2 separate regions of the Homo sapiens genome follow, and region 2 is linked to region 1. The links come from fine-mapping of genetic effects on plasma protein levels. A gene starts in region 1. The other region holds a variant in brackets. All regions are shown on one strand. Distances are between the middles of the regions.

The links. PIP is the posterior inclusion probability: the model's chance that the variant is causal. The UK Biobank Pharma Proteomics Project read protein levels with antibody pairs (Olink). The fine-mapping took linkage between variants from a reference panel, not from the people measured, so its PIPs are less certain.
Region 2: its variant is fine-mapped to the plasma level of the KYNU protein (UK Biobank, PIP above 0.99).

The regions. Positions count from the first base shown.
Region 1 is chr2:142,872,183-142,883,422 of GRCh38, reverse strand. KYNU (kynureninase) reads right to left here and starts at 5,759. Exons shown (of 14, transcript NM_003937.3): 1 at 5,687-5,759.
Region 2 is chr2:143,026,606-143,037,845 of GRCh38, reverse strand. It overlaps KYNU (kynureninase), which reads right to left. Exons shown (of 14, transcript NM_003937.3): 11 at 8,167-8,219; 12 at 4,525-4,610. Among named protein-coding and RNA genes, the nearest start is that of ARHGAP15, 97 kb to the left of the region's middle. The variant A/G (reference allele first, on the strand shown) is at 4,622.

The DNA.
Region 1 (11,240 bases):
ATCAAGACCGTCCTGGCTAACACGGTGAAGCCCCGTCTCTACTAAAAATACAAAAAAAAAATTAGCCGTGCGAGGTGGCGGGCGCCTGTAGTCCCAGCTACTCGGGAAGCTGAGGCAGGAGAATGGCGTGAACCCCGGGGGGTGGAGCCTGCAGTGAGCCGAGGTTGCACCACTGCACTCCAGCCTGGGCGACAGCGAGACTCCATCTCAAAAAAAAAAAAAAAAAAAAAAAAAAAGAAATTTGGGAGCCAGAAAGAAAACTGAAATTTTATAAGTTTAATGGGATACCATTGGGGAGTTTTGAGTAGAAAAGTAATGTGATATAAATTTACATTAAATAAAAACCACTTAGCTCTGTAATGAGTTTTAAAAACAGTGAGATACCACCTCATGTCGGTTAGAATGGCGATCATTAAAAAGTCAGGAAACAACAGGTGCTGGAGAGGATGTGGAGAAACAGGAACACTTTTACACTGTTGGTGGGACTGTAAACTAGTTCAACCATTGTGGAAGACAGTGTGGTGATTCCTCAAGGATCTAGAAGCAGAAATACCATTTGACCCAGCAATCCCATTACTGCATATATACCCAAAGGATTATAAATCATGCTGCTATAAAGACACATGCACATGTATGTTTATTGCAGCACTATTCACAATAGCAAACACTTGGAACCAACCCAAATGTCCATCAATGATAGACTGGATTAAGAAAATGTGACACATATACACCATGGAATACTATGCAGCCATAAAAAAGGATGAGTTCATGTCCTTTGCAGCAACATGGATGAAGCTGGAAACCATCATTCTGAGCAAACTATCGCAAGGACAGAAAACCAAACACCACATGTTCTCACTCACAGGTGGGAACTGAACAATGAGAACACTTGGACACAGGGCGGGGAACATCACACACCGGAGCCTGTCGTGGAGTGGGGGGATGGGGGAGGAATAGCAGTAGGAGAAATATGTAATGTAAATGACGAGTTAATGGGTGCAGCAAACTGACATGGCACATATATACATATATAACAAACCTACACGTTGTGCACATGTACCCTAGAACTTAAAGTATAATTAAAAAAAAAAAGTTGAAAAGGGAGACCGATTAAGGATAACACAGTAGTTCAGGAGAGAAACGGTGGTGAATTAAATTTGGTGATGAGGGCAAAGGTAGAGAGAAGAGTGTGGATTTATGATGTAGTTTGGAGAAAAAGTAGATAGGACTGGTGGATAGATTATTTCTAGTGAGGACAGGAAAGGAGCTTTCTTCTAGCTTTGGGATATGGGCAAATATGTGAAATATGATGAAATAAAAATACCTGGGGAAGAAAAATTTTGAGGAGGGAAATTGGAATTCAGTTTAGCAGGCTGGTTGTGGTGGTTCACACCTGTTACCCCAGCACTGGGAGGCCGAGGCAGGGGATTGCTTGAAGCCAGGAGTTTGAGACCAGTCTGGACAACGTAGCAAGATGTCATCTCTACAAAAAAAAAAAAAAAAAAAGAAAAAAGAAAAGAAAAGCCAGGTGTGCTGGCACTGGCATGCACCTGTGGTCCTAGCTACCGAGGAGGATGGGGTAGGAGACCAGCAGTCTGAGGTTGCAGTGAGCTAATTGTGCCACTGCACTCCATCCTGGGCAACAGAGCATGACTGTTTAAAAAAAAATTATATTTAGGATATATTAAGTTTCAAATAAGTATTGAACATGCAGGTAGAAATGTCAAGCTGGTCATTGGATATTTGAGTGTATAACTTAGGGGAATATTGGATCACAAGATATGTTTAATATTTCTCAATTCAGACTGTACTTAATGTCTAGAACTTCTGGGGGCCCAAACTCACACAGAACTAAAGCTCTAGAATTCAATTCAATCTCCATTCTTCTGCCTCCCTTCACCTTTTACCTTAACTAACACACACAGTGTTTGGCAATAAAGAGTTGCATATCTGAGTGTTAGATAATGCCAGTAAAACAGACATTCTTCTTACACTCTCGATTTTCATTCTTGTACTTTTTGGGCTTCTTCTTTTCTCAACTGTCGATGGTCTCCACTGATAAGCCATTCTTTATATTCCTAGACAAAGATACCAAGGTTCACCATTGCATGTTTTTTACTTTGATATCAGTTGTGACTCCTAACTGCTTCAATCCATGGTTCTGTACAAAAGTGTAGGATTTCAACATTGATGGATGGTGCTTTCAATATCTGACCATAAGTATTATTTGTCCTCCACATGAAATTTTCTATTTCTGTGATTTTTCTCATGCCATTTCCTTTGCCTAAAATGTTTTGCTCCCCTTCAACTTGTTTGGATTCTAGCCAACCTTCAAAGACCTAATGCTCCAATGCTTTTTTCAAGAGGCCTGTTAGGATGTCTCAGGCAAAAGTAGCCCGTCTTCCTCTGAACACCAATAACAATTAAGAGCACACTTATGTACTTTACTTACGATAATAATACATTCTGCCAGGTACTATATTTATTTGGACATATGTATGGATAGGAAAGATCAAAAACATTTGCTATGCCTGAAACTTGATTCTAAATGGCTCCCCACACATAGCTTTCTGATGAAGGAAACTGCATTTTGAAGAGAGATCACTGTGTCTCTACCGCTTGGCATTATCAATTGCCTGGTCATAGTTTATTAGACCTCTGTTGGACACTTACCCACTAAAGACAATGTAGTTTCATCAAAGATCTGTGAATTATTTGCTATAAAAGCTCTAACCAAACAGTGATGATGTTTAGCTGAGTACATAATCAAATTCTTTCAGGAATCTGAGCTGTGGGATGTGCTTATTCATTCAGTTAGATACAGGAGCTAGAATTTAAAATAATCATAGATAGAAGCTATGAAATGCTAGGGTCTAGGAGGAATACTGTCATAGAATGACTCATTTTTCAAAGTAAAACAGAACCACTGATTGTTAAAGCATGAAAAGCATGAAGTGATTCCAGCAGCAAGTAAGAGTCACTTAGTTACACAATGGCAAGGGATTGAACAGCTATGTCTCCTGAAAAGGTGACAAGACAAGCCCATCTTGCAAGTCACTGAATCCTTCATGCAACATGCTATGTGCAAGTCTCCAGGGGACCCATCTTCTTGGCTATTCCTAAAATTCCATGAGATGTTTTTCTGCCTTACTATCAGATTAGTCTTACTACAAACATATTACTGATGGTAGCTGGACTGAGTTGCTGTTCTACCCTACTGAACTGAACTCTACCTGGGGGCCTGAATCATGTTTAATTTATCTTTATAGACATCTCATTTAGACAGAGTACCCCTGCCGCCAAAGTGGCAGTTCGAGAGAATAAACAAAATTGGTTGATGAATTATTTGACATAATGACATATTACTAGAAGGGCACCCTCTCTCATTCTGACCATATGAGAAAGACTTAGACAAACATTTCTAATGAAATTCAGAATCAAGAGAGCTTGCCTTATATTTGAGACTTTCTTTGGGAGGTCAGCCCTTTGAGTTGATTGGAGGTGACTTTAAACTCTAAGTGGGGTTACTTAAATAAAGAGATTAGTTTGTTACCAACAGATTCTGAATAAAATTCAACTTTCCTTATTTTAAAAATGATACTCATTAGCGTCATTCTATCTGTATCTTATTTAATGCTTGTAATAATCCTGAGGCATCAGAATCCTTTTCCTCTATATTGAGATGAAAACCTGGCACAGACAGAGTAGAAACCAGTGGACTAAAAGGATAGCAGAGTGCACAGTAGGGTACTTAACCATGCCTGAGATGCTGAGTCCATTGTGCTGGTCTTTGGCAAAGCCCATGAATGGAATGCACAGAGCTCAATTCCTCCTCGAAGCCTTGAACCTCTCACTTTATTTTTCCTTGCCTGTTGCTTCCTGATGTGTGTGTGTACGTGTGTGTATTTCTTCAGCTCATTCCCTTTTTCTTTGGCTTCTTTTTTCAGTCCTACACTTAAGCTGCAAAGGACCACAAGCTACGTATGAATTGATTTACCTTTTTAATCCATCCTTCCCAGTCCAGTTTCAGCCAGGCAAAAGTTAAAGTGGCTGGTTCCGCTCCTGGGCCTGTCACATCTGGGGTACCTTGAGATACCTGATGGGCATAGTCTTCCAAATGACTGCACCCTGCCCTACTCCACCACTTGCACAACTTCGCATGGTCTCAAATATAGTCTTTAGTTCCCAGAATAGCATAGTGCACTCACTCTAAGGATGCAATTTATTCACTCATACTAATTGCTGCTTAATTCTGCATTCACCCCAGCAGCTAAGACAATTAGTGTTCACAAGCCATAATGTTATGCCATGTTTAGTTTGCAAATAAAGTGACATGCTCATATTCTGAAAGGAAGAACTTAAATCCAAACTTTTAAAAACTTCAACTTTTACATATTTTACAAATTTTCAAATGTTACATATTTAGTGTTAATTTTATCAAGACGGGGGACATACATACCATATGGTCTCAGACAAATCACCTAACTGCTCTGTATGTCAATGTTATTTAAAGTTAAATTTTACTTTCTTCAAAGGATTATGGTTAAGCTCAAATGACATTAGGTCCTTTATAAAAAGATAAAAGATAGTTTGTAATATTTTTTTAAATTATCAATACCTTCTGATGGACAGCATCAATGTGCCTTCGATTTAGGTTTGGAAATTGTGCTTTCACAATTTTATTTAGACAGCTACAACTTTAAAGTAAAAAGCTTGTATAATAATTAAAAACTGATTGATTTTAACGAAATCACAGAATTCAGAATCTCCTAGTCACCCACTGATTTAGGGCTAAATAGTTAAATAAATGACTGAGTGTCTGGTAGTTAATCTTTACACAGTTTCACATTCATGCCTGAAATAAGCAAATTGTACATAGGAGTTCAAAGTTTAGAACCTGACTTAAAAATATGTTGAGAAAGCGTGTAGTTTTTCATTAGTAAAGAAAAAAGGAAAAACAATATGCATATTGAGCAAGATTCTTTAAGCATATCATTGAGAAATGGGTAACATTACTCTGCTACGAGTGTATATTTCATATCTAGGATATGAATTACTTGCTGAACACGTTAAGAAAATCAATACATTTGCTTCAGTGTTACTACTAAATAACACCCCACTGGCCTCAAAATAAAAGCAGAAAGGAAAAAAGAAAATCTAGTATATTTTTAAAAAGTGTATCAACTTTCTTTTCTTAGGTTTCATAAAATGAAAGGGGAAGAAACTCTGTTCAAGAGTAGGCATTTTCACTTCTCTAAATAAATATTTAATATGACTACTAGCAGCATAAGACAATTAAAGTTACCAGAAAACAGAGGACTTAAAATCTGTTTAAGAATATCTTTCCCTCGTCTGGAGTTTGACCTAATCTTACCGCTTAAACTCAAATAAGAACAGGACTAACTTTGGTTTGTCAAATGTAACCATATTCAGTGCACTATGTTCATCAGTTCTTTTCTATTACATTAGTAAAGATCTTTTCATTTAACCCATTTCTAAAGGTGGGGCCTTTAGGAAGGTCATACCATTTTTATTTACAAAAAGAATATATATAAAAAAAGAAGAGAGTAGCAGAAAAAAACCTCTAAAACACTATGACAAGGATTCTAGCTGACAGAAGTTTCATTTGGAAAAAACATGGAGTAAACATTAGGGTAGAGAGTTTTTATCAGCGCCTCAAGCTTACCAGCTAGGATCCCAATGGAGTGTTTGGCTCCCAGAATCTCTCCAAGAACCTCTCAAGAATTCCTTGAAAATGTACAGGCCAGATCTTAGGGTGAGAAATTCAAAGAACTGCTCAGACTCCACCCAGTGGAGAATTTATAAATATTTTACTTTACTTCCTCTCCCCTAACCAATCGGTAATCTCCAGCCACTGTCAGAAATTTAAGCAACATGTGCTCCTGCCCACCATTTCAAATGCCAGAGCCTCCAGTGAGGGCTTCTTTCCAGAGGCAACTTTGCTCTTTAAACTCAGGTAAACACACACTTGTCCTTTAACTATATAAATCTCTGACCCCTGAACTGATGAGTTGGTCTTAGAGCTAAATTCCAAATTTTGCCTTTCTTCTTCACTTTGAGCTCTGGATTTTTGAGACAATACCCTCCTTCAAATACACTGAGGATTTTCAGTCTGATGGTTGAATCTATGACATTTAATGGGTAAACTTTTTAGTCAAAAGTTTAAAATAGGCTCTCAATTCCAGAATACACTCTATTGCCTAATATGTGAGTTTTCAAAAACTCCTAGGTAATAAATCTGGACAGTTAACAAGACAATGAAGGAAGAAAGATCTGAAGATTCAAGTGGAAACTAGCCTGGCAAACTTCATTAATGCAAATTATTCATTTAAGTCTGTGAATTGTCTTTTGTTCTAGTCTGACTACCTCTTTAGGCTTATTCCTGAGCTTGGGTCTTTTGATGAATATCCTTGTAGTTATAAAAACTAAGAGCAAAGACTTTCGATATTAGGACTAGGGATGAAGAATGTGCTTGAATAATTGAATGACTTATGCACACCTATGCTTTATTTAGTAACCCACAACAAATCAAGTAAAGTGTCATTTAATCATTTCTATCAAGTGTTCATTGTATAACCCTGAGCAATTCACTTAACCCTTGTGGAGGCTCAGTCTCCTATTTATCAAATGAACTTAATAATACCTTCCTCCCAAGATTACTGAAACGATAAAACCATGCAGGTTGAAGGCCATAGATACCATGACACTCAAGTCAAAAGTGACATATTGTCTTTTTTTTAATCTTAAGTAACCAGACAAAAAGTACTACTCTCCAGTTTCCAAGAGAGGGAGATAAAGTGCATGAAATTGCTTTAATACGAGTAATTGACCAGTGAAAATAAAATATATTTCACTTCATTGATCCTATCCTTACAATAATCCTATAAAGTAAGTAGACTACCAATTGATTAACTTAGAATAGTAAAAGTTTGAATCCATTCAGGAAATTTCAGAAGGTGTACTTTTTTTGCATCTATTCTGTGTATGCCTCATGCTGTAAAAACTTTGGAAGATTACCAGGCTCTAATATATGGGGAGCGAACCAGAGGGCGGATCTGTGTCATTTTTGTGTCACTCTTTTAAAGACTGACTATAGATTTAGAGAGCTAGATATGGACATTAAGGTTTTGTTTTCACAAGATCTTGCTTCTTCTAAAATCTTGTAATAATATGATTAAAAATTTCATCAAAATATTATCTTAAAAACTACTGTTTAACTTGTCACCTTTAAAGAACTTGCTTGGAGGTCTAAGCTATACTTCTATTTCTTATGTTTTATAAATTTCTTTCTTTCTTTAAATTTGTTACATTTGAGGAATAAAAATAAAATCCCAAGCCCCTAGATTAACTGAACGGACACGCTCTTGGCCAAGGGGATCCCAGAGTAAACTTGAAAACTAAGTTTTTGGCCATGACAGGATAGGAAGTGGAACACATACCCGCTCCATCACTAACTATGATTAGGCTTTCTGCCCTATGGCTAAAAAGAAACCAGTCATTTCAAAAGATTACACCAATGACATCAACCATCACCTGGTGTTATCCCTCTCTTTTGTGGTTTGGAACAAAAAGAAAATACTGATCATGGAATGTTTCTGGCTAGTCTATGGAGAATGTGCAGTAAAGGTTTTCATGTCCTCTGCTTCACATTGGGCTGAAAACTGCCCCCTCAGATTGTATTAATGCTGTCATTTTTTGAACACGGATCCCATGGAGAAGCATGAAACTCCATTGTGCATGTGCACATTTCTCCTTTCACAAATATTCATGGCTTCCCCTATAGCTTATTGAATATATATATTCAGCTACCCTGCTCAACATAAATTTCTGTTTCCTTTGCTCCTCCCTCAAAATGTCTGTTTCCAGCTTCTGATTAGAGGCTATACTTTTCAGAGGTCAGAATGATCACCCTGCAGGCTGCAATCCTTTATGTGAAATGAAGCTCTCCTTTCCAAATGTATGAACCTGTCATTCTTCAGTTGACACTTTCATTCATTCAAGAAAAGTATTAAGCATATTCTCTGTACCAAGCACAAAGTGAAATGCCAGGGATGTAATGGGGAGCAAAACTTGTATAATAACATAGGCCGCTAAATACAGAAGGGAATTATGAGAGAACGAGTCATGCGGGGAGGGGTGAAAGCAAGACCCGCTACAGGGCCAGCAGTCAAGGTTAAACAGAGAACACTGTGAGATACCATTCCTTCCTTTTGGAAACAGGAAGAAAAAAAGTGTTGCCAGAATAAGCTGTTGTACAATTCCGAGTTGTCTATTAATTTCCAGGTATGGCATCCTGCTTATAAAATGATATGTTTCCGAGAGGAAAAGACTAATTTTATCCTCCTCAGAGCTCTACCTATGTATGGAGCTAAATAAATATCTACTGAATTGGTTAATTTGTTTTTTTTTAATTAAGATCTAGTTTATTTTCTAAAAATTGATTATTGGAAATATGGGAAAGTTTTGTCCTCTCAAAAGGTAATCTTGAACCATGAACTTTATTCTTATTCTTCAGGGCATTTTCGCCATAGTTAGGCCAGTATCTAGCATTTAGTAGACTAAAATGGGTGCTTGCTGGATCATTAACTAAATTAAATTCAGATCAGCAAACTCTTTATGTAAGAATCCAAGGCTGCACTACCAGGCTGATCATAACACTCTAATGCTGGGTGCTCAGTATGTGAAATGAGTAATGAGATTAAAGACAGAGACAAGTTAGGAAAGAACTAATAAAAAAAACTGCAGTCTCAAACTTGGGTAAACAGAAAATTTCACAATACGCTATTTTTCTTAATTAAATAAAAACGCAGAGCTCACATGTGACTTCTTAGGAGGAAAATTTACTCTGAGTCATTATTGGAACTCTCCTTTCTTCTTTACACAGGGTGTTGGGAAGTTCCCAGATGGGAGGGGCAGATTAGCTTCCTTCTCTCTGCCCTCCTGCCTCTCCTTTCCCCTCACCATATCCCTGGGGCCTTGCACACCCAATCACTCTTTCCAAACTTCCCCTTGGGGATAACCAATATAACATAACAAAAACTTTCTCAAATGCCAGTCATGAGATTTGCCTTAAGCAATTTCTGCCAAGGAACCTACAGCATCTTCTCTATATGGGTAGGGGAAAATATAAAAAACAGAGCACACACAAAATTATCTCTCCTCTCTTCTTCCCTCTCCCCTTATCTGTCCTTCCTTCCCCTCTCCTTCCTTTCCTGCTGCCCCCTCCTCTTTCCCTCTTCTTGCCTTCTCTCCTCTTTCTCTAATGCCCTCCTCTTGCCTTCTCTTCCTCTCTCTCTCTCTCTCCTTTTCTTTTTCCCTTTTTCTCTCTTCCCTCCACTGCACTCTCATTTCCTCACCCATACTCTCCTTTCTTCTCCCTCTCCCTCCTACAACAGGGAAGGCAAAGCAAATTAATATGCTAATAAATCACTAGGCTATGTTTAGACAATCTACTTTTTCCTTCCTGTGAGATACATAGTCTGGTTATTAGAAAAATTTCTCAGTAATGGGCGGGGACTTTCCTACCCTCTCTATATGTTGTATTTTCAGTTTTTCAGAGGAAAATGCAAGGGCTCGTTATAAGCAAATGACATTTTGCCAGTTGGTGATTAAAATTTATTTAGAATCTAAAATTCCTATAACCCATTCCCTTTTTCCTAGATCAGAACTTTTCCCTCACTGTTAAACTCACAAAGGTATAGAAGGCAATCTAAATCATGTGCGGTAGCAGAAGAACTTTAGTAGTTTTCTGTTATATGTGTTTGCAGGTCAATTTGCTCAATTGTCTGATTGTTTACATGAGGAATTTCTGAGTTTCCTGTAAAACATGAAAAACCCAAAGTGACTTGAGTCATATTGACATCATTGACCACATAACAACATCATTGATGTCATGATGACTCTGGAAAACGGGAACAGGCATTACAAAATCTCCATTTAAAGACAAAGCTTTCATATACCAGGGTTTCTTTCTATAGTACAAGGTACGATGTACATGCCCTCTTTTACCATAACAACTTACAACAGAAAATTTTTTTTCTTAATATTAAAAATGACTATCAACAGGGATAGTGTAGAGCTGATGTTTGGAGATGTCACTTCAAGATCCTCTTCTGGGATTTGTCCTTTTTCCTATGTTTGTCTGGCAAAGTATTTTCTAGTGTCACTAATAAACGGTGTAAAATTTCCCATTTTGGAAGTGTCCAGTATGGGTCCACCATTTTGCCAGTCGTTTGAAACTTCTCATAGCTTACAGTATGACAGACACCAAAATATAGCAAATTCCTAAATTGTCTTAACCCCACATCGCAGGCAGGGGAAAAGAGTTCACTAGACTAGGATCTGAAGAATGGTGCAATATGTCCCCAAAAGCCAAAGAAAAGTGCTTCTGAGGGGCTCTGAATCTAGACAAGGAAGATGCAGAGTATTAGATAAGAATAAGAGCTAGTAAGAAACAGAAAAGGACAAATGCATTTGAAATTTTAACTTGTCTTCATGTAAGAAAATAGTGTCCTCTATAGAAATATTTTTGTAATTTAGAGGAAAAATATAATTAGTTAGCAAAATACAAATTTTCAAAACTGACCAAATAAGAGAAACACTTGAAGAAAACAATTCCTTTAGAGGAGATTAAAAATGCATTTAAAGAGTTATTGTATAAAAGGAAACATCCCCACTGCCAGGAAGTACAGAAAAAAAAATAGAAGGCAACATTACGTTTGAAAAGTTTTGCATATGAATTCTAGCACAGCATTAAAGATTAGGAGAACCTCATGTTATTCAAACTATTCCAGATCATACAAAAAGATGAGCTTTCCTGTTCATTTTCTGAAATTATGCTAATTTCAGTTCCAAAGCTTGATTAAGAATAGGAGTGTAAGCTTCAAAATACTGTTTCAATTAAAAAAAAAGTTGATAAGGAATTGTATCACATCTATTTTCCTCAGAGCTAATTATTATTATTTATTTCAGATAAACAGGTTTTATTTTCACCTTGAAAGAGTCTGTTTTTTTGTTTGTTTGTTTGTTTTTGAGACTGAGTCTCGCTCTGTCACCCAGGCTGCAGTGCAGTGGCGTAATCTCGGCTCACTGCAAGCTCCGCCTCCCGGGTTCACGCCATTCTCTCCCCTCAGCCTCCTGAGCAGCTGGGACTACAGGCGCCCACCACCATGCCTGTCTAATTTTGTTTTTGTATTTTTAGTAGAGACAGGGTTTCACTG
Region 2 (11,240 bases), 150 kb before region 1:
ATAAAAATATTGAGAGAGAATAATAGGGAAGTAACATAAATATTCTATTTTCTTTTTTGCTTCTCATAAATGTTATGCTTTCAATATTGAGAAAATAATTTTTTTAAATTAGAAAAAATGAAAACTGTGGTTTGAAAAATATTCAGCTTAGAAGATAATACTTTGCAGAGTTTCAACTACTTGTATTTTTTTTCTTACTGACAAAATGAACACAAAGCTTGAAAAGCTAGATAAGTTTAAACAGGAAAAATAAGTTTGGTGTGATGTTTTCAATTGTCATATTTTTCTCTTAAATTCTTAAAACTGTCTCTCTAGGAAATTTGAAAGGAAACGTATAGTACATTTCTTTGTTGAGTCTTCTGACTCGCCATGTATTTTAATTGAATGCTCTAACTTTGTATTTTGAAGCCATTTATTTCATTATGAATTCAGAATACTGAAAGGGACTAAATATTGTCTACCTATCGCTACACATAAATATGAACCCTCAAAATATAATATACGTATTGTTTAAATTTAAGTATTTTGGAAAGTGAGGAGACTTCCAAAATAATCTTGTCCAAACATCTTACTTTAAAAAATAAGGCAAATACATCCAAAGGGAGTTGTTGCTTGTGTAAGGTCACACTTCGTGTCCATTGAGGGAGAGAGTACTTGCCACCAGGTTCCTGGCCTCAGGCTTCATCCCTTGATCCACAATATTTTAAGAACTATTGTATAAATGATTCAGATAAAAAAATATAAACAAAAGGACAGTTTGAAACTGATTACAATGTGCTATTTTTTATATCAATCAACCATATACACATGTATTTATTAAAAAAAGCCATATTAATATCTTTTTAAAAAGTCATTGCATTAAAAATCTAAGGTCTTATTTATATGTGATTGATTCTTAAGTATAGAATCTCTCCTCCAGTTCGTATTTGACTGTGTTGAATATTTCTTAAAAGTAGAGACAACAAAGAGGCAGTTTGATTCATGCATTTACTTCTTTCGTTTATTGAAACTTCAACCACCTATCTCCTAAAATGGAATAAACTGGTTTAAAAAGATAAGGTGGCTGAGTGCAGTGGTTCACGTCTGTCATCCCAACTGCTTAGGAGTATAAAAAGTAAAGTAGAGGTTCCTCTTCAAAGACTTTCCTTCCCGTCTAATTAGGAATAAATAGTAACTTCTCTTAGAAGCAAAATTTATTCAAAGACCTGTGCTAACATTCTTAAATATCTGCTAGCTGTAATAAATAAATCAATATACTTTATGTTTTTAGCTCCCACAATTTAGCCTAAATATTTGCCCTGGCATGCTTATACTGGTCCAAGCAGCATTAGGTCACAGCCTGTTCCTCTTCCTTATTTAAAAGTGTTTTTACCTTTCTTAGCATTCCACAAGTTACTTCCTCCTTCCTTTGTTACCCTCTACCTTTACGTCTTTTAAAAAGTTCTAAGTTACTAGCCAATCGGGACAAATACAGAATGGGAGGTCCCATTCCAGCCATTGGAACTGGACACAGCAGTAGGGTGGACACGTCAGGTTATAAATGACCCTGTCTCCTTTGTTCGGTGTACTCTCATGGCAAAACTGCTGGCGAGTGTATCCTCTCTGCAGGAAGTAAAAATGGCCTTACTAAATAAATTAAATTTGCGTTCAAGTGCTATTTCTTTATAGCACTGAAAAACAAACATTTCAAACAGGAGACTGAGGCAGGAGAATCGCTTGAGGCCAGGAGTTCCAGATTAACGTGGACAACATAGCCAGACCTCATCTCTAAAAAAATTTAAAAATAAGCTGAGCACAGTGGCATGCCCTGTAGTCTTAGCTACTCAGGAGGACCACTTGCAGCCAGTAGTTCAAGATCAGCCTGGGCAACATGGCAAAATCCTGTCTCTATAAAAAAATACAAAAATTAGTCGGGCATGGTGGTGCACTCTTGTAGTCCCAGCTGCTGTGGAGGCTGAGGTGGGAAGATCAACTGAGTCCAGGAGGCAGAGGTTGCAGTGAGCTGAGATCCCATCACTGCACTCTAGGAGTGACAGAAGGGGACCCTGTCTCAAAAATAAAGAAATAAAATAAATAAATAATAATAATCAGCCAAGTGTGGTGGTGCAGTCCTGCAGTCCCAGTTACCTGGAAGGTGGGGGCAGGAGGATCACTTGAACCCCAGGAGTTTGAGGCCATGCTAAGCCATGATCGTACTATTGCATTCCAGTCTGAACAACAGAGCAAGACCTCATCTCTAAATATAAATAAATAAAACTTAAAGGAAGGTAAGTATTAATAGAAGCATAGTTAATTCACTGATGTTTACTCACATGAGAAACCCATAAATGTCTAGAAAATAAGACATTTTAACAGAGAAAGGGAAGCAATTCAATGCATTAGTTTGTAATTCAAAAATTTTGCAATTTACAGTAGGAAAGAATTTTGAAAAAACACTTTTACCAACATAAGGCTTGATTAACTAAAGATAATTTTGGTTAGAACATAGTCTCAGCAGTGAAATGAGCAGAAAGAGGCTCAAGGGAAATATGTAAGTGATTAGAAGATCCAGAGAAATGCATATCATTCTTCTTGTGGCTTTTAGGGTTTTAAGTTTAGATATTGACTGGGTAACATAGTAAGACTTTATCTGTACAAAAAACTACAAAAATTAGCCTGGTGTAGCGGTGCACACCTGTAGTCCCAGCTACTCAGGAGGCTGAGGTTTAAGTTTAGATATTAAAAAGAAAAAATAAATCAGTTCTCAGATTATAACTGAAAATAAAAACTTTGTCTAGGTGACTCTAATACAGTGTGGTAGGAAAACAGTGGCTGGAAGAATAGGAATGTGCTTCCTTTCCCACAAGAGAAGGGTGAATACTACTAGAAAAGCCAGTCCACTGCAGAAAGTATGCCAAAGTGAAGGCGTCTAAAAGGAAATTTCCAGGTACGTCTGAGAAGTTATTTGCAAAGATATGGGCACCAGAGGAAATTACTTTAGGTACAAGCTCTTCCTAAGGTATGTCCTGGTGCTTCTGATATTGTCACACATCTCGCTGATACAAACTTGCAAGGAATGCAGAAACTTTATTTTGTTTTAAAATGTTTAAACAAAATATTTATCTGAATGGATACTATAAAAACAACTCAAATATCATTATCTGATTTACTAAGCAGATTTTTACTCAAAAAACTGTCAAAAATATATATCACTGGCTGAAAAATCTCGTTACTGTGTCTATTTTCCAAGTTAAAGAAAAATTCTGCCATGAAGTGAAAACAACACAAGCTCCATCTAGTGGTTAAACTGAGTAGGTGCGCTTTAAATTGAGACAGAATGAAATGAGGTGATGATCACTATCCAGTGGTGAAATTTAATAAAAACAGAGGAACTTGATGCTGCCATCCAGTGGCCAGAATGAGAAACTGCTGTAAGTGTTCACAGAATTATGCAATTTTAGATTAGAAGGAATTTTGAATCTTCATCCTGTCACTCATTTGATGCTGAAATCCTCTATAAGTTTTTGCCAAAATATCATAAACTACATGATTTTAGAAGGAGACATGAAAAAATTTCAAATCCTTGTTTGAATAGTTCTATGTAAAACTTCTATTAGAAATATATATGCACATTTACTTAAAATATATTTTACTTAAATATAGGTATACAAAATATACAATTACTTTATATATTTACATTATTTATGTAAATATTTATACATTTACATTATATATGAATTTTATACTATATAACCTATATATTTTTACTTGGCCACATTTAGTCTAACACTAAATAATAGTATCTAAGGAATCACAATTTCATTTTCTTGTTATGTATATTTATCATTTCAGGGTGAGACTAAATTTACCTAAATAAAAATATAAATTAATTTAAAGGAAAATATTGAGTCAGTGATAGTGGAGACTATAAATGGACATAATGGCATAGAAGTCCCAATTTAAAAAAATCATAAAACCACCCTACCTTATGAGACAACCTTATTTAATCTTTGGTTTACTCTGATTATTCTTTTTTCCTTCAAGTAAGTCTTTCCTAGCTTTGTCACATGGTACTTGGTCAGTTCATTCACCTACAATGAACTAGAAAAAGTACAGTCCCTAGTAATCACATCAGGCACACAATATTTTCTCAATAAATTTATGTTGAATGAGCGAATTTATGAAGAACTAAATATTGCATGCTTATTTGGTATAAAGAGAGGCCAAGAGAAGGTTAAATAACTTATTCATGTTTAAACAGATTCTAAGTGGAGTAAAAAACGTATCTCCCCAAAAGAGTTCCATTTAATATTTACTATGTGCCAACAATGTGCCAAGCATTGTGCTGGGGGCTGGTGACATGAATGAAGGGAGACCCTCACCACATCATCACTGTCCTAAAGGGGAATGCTGCCTTCTGTCCCTTGTTCATGCACAGTGCACATGTATCATCTTGCTGTGTAGCAGAGAAAGTACTATGAATTGTCACAAACAGATCAAGAAAAAACGCAAAGATGTGGGAAGGTTGAAACACACATCACTTACCTCTAAACTAGCATGCAAGGAACAGACCAACAAAATGGGAGGATTTGAAATTCGGAATCCACAGACCCCAGGGATTAACTGCAGTTCTGAGAAATTA[A/G]TATCATGTCATTATCATAGAAGGTAACTTTAAAAGTGTCCATAAAGATACTAGAGTACTGGAGAGTAAAAGAGCAAGACTTAAACTTTTCTTCCTAAGTAGGATTTCTGAGATATTTAAGATAAGCTCCATGGAACTAAAATATCGACGTTATTTCCCGTTTACCAGCAGTTCCCACCTCCCTTGTCCCCAACTTCTTAGCAGAACACCAGAAATCTTAGACCCAAGGTAAAAATGACCTCTTCTGGAAGTTTTTCTGGATCTCATTCTCTGCCTTCCTATTCCCAAGCCAGGATTCCTTATTCTGCTCAACATTTGCTATTCTATTATGAAACCATGTCAATGAGAGAGAGCATCAGCTTTTAGTGGCATGTAATTGTAATGTCTCCCAAAGGCAGAAATATGAATGAAATGACCTATGAAGCTGACTTTTAGCTCTAGGATTGTTAGGTCAAGTGGTTTCTCTTACAGAACACACACAGACACACACACACACACACACACACACACACAATAGAGGGAGCTTTAAAAAAAAGATCTGCCTAAGTATATAAAAAAGGTAAATTAATAACAGATGCTCTACTAATTAGAATTAAGCAGATTGAACTGTAGCAAGTTAAATTCAATAGGGTTAAGATAGCTAGTCAGAGATAAGTTAACACTATGACTGACTAAAAGAATGTTAAAACTTGATGACTTTTTTATAGTTATCAAATCCAGGATTAAGCAAACTATGGTGATATGGTTTGGCTCTGAGTCCCCACCCAAATCTCATCTTGAATTGTAATCCCCATATGTCGAGGGTGGGACCTGATGGGAGGTGAATGGATCATGGGGGCAGTTTCCTGCATGCCGTTCTCATGATAGTGAAGGAGTTCTCACAAGATCTGATGGTTTTAAAAACAGCAGTTTTTTTTGTTTTGTTTTTTTTTTTTGTTTTTGTTTTTGAGATGGAGTCTCGCTCTGTTGCCCAGGCTGGAATGCAGTGGCGCGATCTTGGCTCACTGAAACCTCCGCCTCACGGGTTCACGCCATTCTCCTGCCTCAGCTTTCCGAGTAGCTGGGACTACGGGTGCCTGTCACCACGCCCAGCTAATTTTTTTGTATTTTTAGTAGAGATGGGGTTTCACAGTGTTAGCCAGGGTGGTCTCGATCTCCTGACCTCGTGATCCGCCCGCCTTGGCCTCCCAAAGTGCTGGGATTACAGGCGTGAGCCACCACGCCCGGCCAAAAACAGCAGTTTTTATGCACTCTCTCTCTTTCTCTCTCTCTCTCACCTCCCATCACCTCATATGTGCCTTGCTTTCCCTTTGCCTTCTGACATGATTGTAAGTTTCCTGAGACTTCCCCAGCCATGTGAAACTGTGAGTCAATTAAAATTCTTTCCTTTTCAAATTACTGAGTCTCAGGTGGTATCTTTATAGCAGTGTGAAAACAGACTAATATATGGCCATATGGCCTGTGGGCCAAATTTGACCCACTAGTTTTGTTTTTGTTTTTGAGACAGAGTATCACTCTGTTACCCAGGCCTGAGTGCAGTGGCTCAATCATGGCTCACTGCAGCCTTGACCTCCCCGGGCTCAGGTGATCTTCCCGCCTCAGGCTCCCAAGTAGCTGGGACTACAGATGCATACCACCACTCCTGGCTAATTTCTGTAGTTTTTATAGAGACAAGGTCTCACTATGTCACCCAGGCTGGTCTCAAACTCCTGTGATCAATTGATCCATCTGCCTTGCCTCCCAAAGTGCTGGGATTACAGGCGTGAGTCTTCGTGCCAGGCCCTGCTTTTTAAAATACAGTTTTATGAAAACATAGCCACAATCTTTCACTTATGTATCACCTATGGCTGCTTTACCACCACAATGACGGAATTGAGTATTTGCCACAGAGACTGTATAGCCTAGAAAGCTTAAAATATTTCCTATCTGGCCTTTCACAGAAAAAGTTTGCTACCCCTGATCAAATTCAATTCCTTTATTTCCAAATAAGAAAACCCATCTCAAAGAATTTAAATAACTGGTATAATAACAGATCTAATTATTTTAGCAGCCAAGGTAAAATACAGGTATCCTGACTTGACTGGAATATCCCATTTTGCAATTTGGTTGCTACAAATCTGCATACCAATGGTCCCTGACTTAACAATGGTTTGACTTAAAATTGTTCAATTTTACAGTGATACAAAAGCAGTACATCTTAAGTAGAAGCCATACTTCGACTACCCATACGCCCATTGTGTTTTCCACTTTTAGTATAGTATTCAATAAATCATATAATATATTCAATGCTTTATTATAAAATAGGATTTGTGTTAGATGGTTTTGCCCAACTCTAGGCTATGTAAGTGTTTTGAATGTGTTTTAAGGTAGGCTAGGCTAAGCTATGATGTTCTATAGATTAGGTGTATTAAATGCATTTTTTACTTATGATATTTTCAGCTTATGATGGGCTTATCAGGAAATAACCCCATTGTAAGTCAAAGAGCACCTATATATATAAAATATTATCTCAGGCCAGCTTGGACAACATAGCAAGACCTCATCTCCACTAAATAATAATAATAATAATCAGCATCATCATCATCATCCAGTCATGGTGGTGCACACCTCTAGTCCCAGCTACTTAGGAAGCTAAGGCGAGAAGATTGCTTGAGCCAGGAATATCAAGGCTGAACTGAGCCTGATCGCACCACTGTACTCCGGCCTAGGTGACAGAACAAGACCTTGTTTCAAAAACAAAAAAATAAAGTCAATAAAAAATGAAAACAAATTTAAAACAGTATCTCAGGGTTTAAAGCAATCTGAAGGATCAAGTTTATGTTGAACTCTCAAAGCACGTATGATCTTTCTGCATCCCATGTGATTGAGAAATGAGGTCATGCAGGAAAAGGAAGCTCTGCATGGTAGAGTTTCACTTCTATCTGCTGGGGTTAACTGCTCACAGGAATTGCTACACTCTTTGGTACATGGCAAAAGCCACAAAAGGAAAATAGGAAAAAAGAGGAGTGAAAATGAGTATTTATTAAGGTACTGCTGTGTCCTACTTGGCTTATTGTTTTGAGCTTGACTAACCCTAAAACCAAATCTTTAAATAGATTTTATTATTCACATTAGATAAGTGGGAAAGAAAAAACAATGACACAAGATGATATAACTTGTGCAGGATCAAAAAACTATTAAGCAGCAAAGTGTGATTAACACCCAGGTCTTTCTGGATCTGACTCCAAGCCCCAAATTTCCTCCTGTCCTCCATGCCCAGTGTTTCAGGCACTCTATGTTGATGGCACCTGACCAAGCCACATGACCCTTACCTTGGACTTCATTTTCTTTTATCTCCCTGCTAAGGGATAGACTCAAAATCATGCTAAAATCTATAAACTCTTAGTCTTACACTCTGGAAATGTCATTTCTTATTTGAGAATTCTCAGTGACATTTTTGAAGTGCACTCTCCCTGGGGCATATACATTACACATAATACAAAGACAGATGAACATTGAAATAAAGTTAAAATAAAAATGGCATTAGGTAAAATAAATACACTTACTGTTATCCATCTTAAATCTGGTGCTGAGTTCATGGCCAAACCATCCCACTAATCTAAAATATAAATAAAAACATTAGGTTTTTGGGGGTTTTTTTGGATGGAGTCTTGCTCTGCTGCCTAGGCTGGAGTGCAGTGGCGTGATCTCAGCTCACTGCCACCTCTGCCTCTTGGGTTCAAGCGATTCTTGTGCCTTAGCCTCTCAAGTAGCTGAGACTACAAGCATGCACCACCATGCCCGGCTAGTTTTTGTCTTTTTAGTAGAGATAGGGTTTCACCATGTTGGCCAGGCTGGTCTTGAGTTCCTGAGCTCAAGTGATTCATCAGCCTTGGCTTCCCAAACTGCTGGGATTACAGGTATGAGCCACTGTGACTGGACATGATATTTTGATCTATAAAAATAAACACTACTAATTTAGAAATCTGGGGCCTGCATTATAAAGCCATTTGTAATATAAGTCATCAAATACTTCAGCAGATAAAATACTATCTGGTATCATATGGTAATTAATATTTATAATTAAAAGAATGAGGATAAAAATCTATCCATCTCTATTATTATTTTTGTGTGAAATGTCAACTTAAGAGTTATAGTTAATGACCGGTTTTTATTTAATATAAAATGAACAAAAATATTAAGCAGTTTTTATTTTAAAATTAAGCTAAAAGCTCAAAAAGGTCAAACAATTAATACAATATTTTCACAATAGAATCTCTAAAGAGAAATGTACCCAAAAAGCCCATACAATTGTTGAAAGTTTTAAAAATACTTTTAAAGGAAATTGGTTGCTTTCATATTGTTTTTGTTTTGTTTTGTTTTGTTTTGTTTTGTTTGAGACAGAGTTTTGCTCTTGTTGCCCAGGCTGGAGTGCAATGGAGCAATCTTGGCTCACCACAACCTCCGCCTTCCGGGTTCAAGTAATTCTCCTGCTTCAGCCTCTCAAGTAGCTGGGGTTGCAGGCATGTGCCACCACGCCCGGCTAACTTTTTTGTATTTTTAGTAGAGACGGGGTTTCACCATGTTGGTCAGGCTGGTCTTGAACTCCCGACCTCAGGTGATCAGCCCGCCTCAGCCTCCCAAAGTGCTGGGATTACAGGCCTGAGCCACCACGCCTGGCCTCATATTGTTAATAAGAATGTTGGCCAGGCACTGTGGCTCACACCTGTAATCCCAGCACTTTGGGAGGCCAAGGCGGGTGGATCATGAGGTCAGGAGTTTGAGACCAGCCTGACCAACATGGTGAAACACCGTCTCTACTAAAAATACAAAAATTAGACGGGCGTGGTGGCATACACCTGTAGTCCCAGCTACCAGGAGGCTGAGGCAGGAGAATCGCTTGAACCCAGAGGGGGAGGTTGCAGTGAGCCGAGATGGAGCCACTGCACTCCAACCTGGGTGACAGAGTGAGACTCCATCTCAAAAAAAAAAAAAAAAAAAAGAATGTAAAATAAGCCAGACATAAAATACAAAATATATAGGGAAAATCACATACGTGTGTGTATATATTACATGAAAAAGACTATAAAACAATTTAGAGAAAAATATAAAAAATTTAGAAAGAGAAATATCATGTTGCTTCTGATCAATTATCCCTAAATATTTTAGTTTTAGTGATGTCCAAATAAAAATTCCAAGACACTATTTTTTGGGAGATGACAAAATGTTTTAAAATTTATATAGAATAGAAAAGTATAGTGAGGAATATGCTATATTATCTTGTAATAGTATCTTATATGCTTTATATGATAATATTGCATATTATAAAATGCAGTACATAAATGAGACTAATTCTAGTAAAGAAACATCAGTGAGACAAATGAGATATGACGGTAAATACAGAAACAGTCCTCAGATCATGTCACAATTATCACCTCTTAATTATGACATTTCCAAAATGCAAAAATGAAAAAATTATATTTACATACTCATGATTTTCAAAACAGAAATTTCTAAGTATAAAACAGAAGAAAATTCAAAGGAACATACCAACAGATTTATAAACATTTAAAATTCTGTATTAAAAAGACAGACAAAATTGCAAGGCAAACCAGAGATGGGGAAGAGAAGTGATATTTGTCCCATATGAAAGAGTTTTCACTAAGAGTTTTTACATAGAAAAAGGACAATGTACCAAGAGCAACCCAGCTACAGAGCAGGGACAGGCAGTTTATAAAGGAGAAATGTCTGTGCCCCATGAATTCAGGAGAAGCAAACAAAACAAACAAAAACACCTCAATCTCACTAATGTTTCACACTATAATGTAAAGATGAGACCATATTTTATATATCAAATATACAAAATGACTTAAAATTATGCATATTTTCATTAAAGATTCAAAGAAAAGGAAATCAACCACTGTTGAATAATGATAATAAATAAGTAATAAAATCTTTCTAGAGGACAATTTAAGAAGATATATGGGAAATATGCATTGTTTTCTGTCCCAGAAATTTTACTCCTTCCAATTTATCTAAATTGGATTACACTATTTGGATTACACTATTTGAAGTACACCAAGATTTGTGTATTAGTGATAGGGAACAGCAGGCACAGAAAATCTAGGCAGAAAAGAGTAGGTCCCCAGGAATTCCTACCCTCAAGCTGAAAAGCCTGAAACCACAGCCCAAAGTGAGAACTTCTATCCCTGTTTTCCCGCTCAAATGTTGCTTTTTCCTAAACCACTCATGGCCCCACCCCGCCCCATCCTGTGCCTATATTAATCCCAGACTCAGCCAGTAGACAGGATACAGCTGGGCATCGGAGAGAAGTGGCTTGACTTCAGAGGGACAGCTTGGTGGCGTAACTTCGTAACTTCGAGAAGAGTCTGGCTGTCACACTGGCTCTTCACCCTGGCTGGTGGAAGGCAGCCGCCTCATGTGAAAAGTCAGAGGCCCCACTGAGCTATTAACACTAATGCGGACTGCGGACTGCGGACTGCGGACAGCAGAGCTAAAAGAGCACTGTAACGTGCCCTCTGGGGCTCTGAGAGTCGCAGGCACCCCCGGTTGGAGTCTGCTGTGGGGCCTGCATGGAGTTCAATCCTGCCGGTTCTAAAGTGTGGGGTCAGTTCCTACA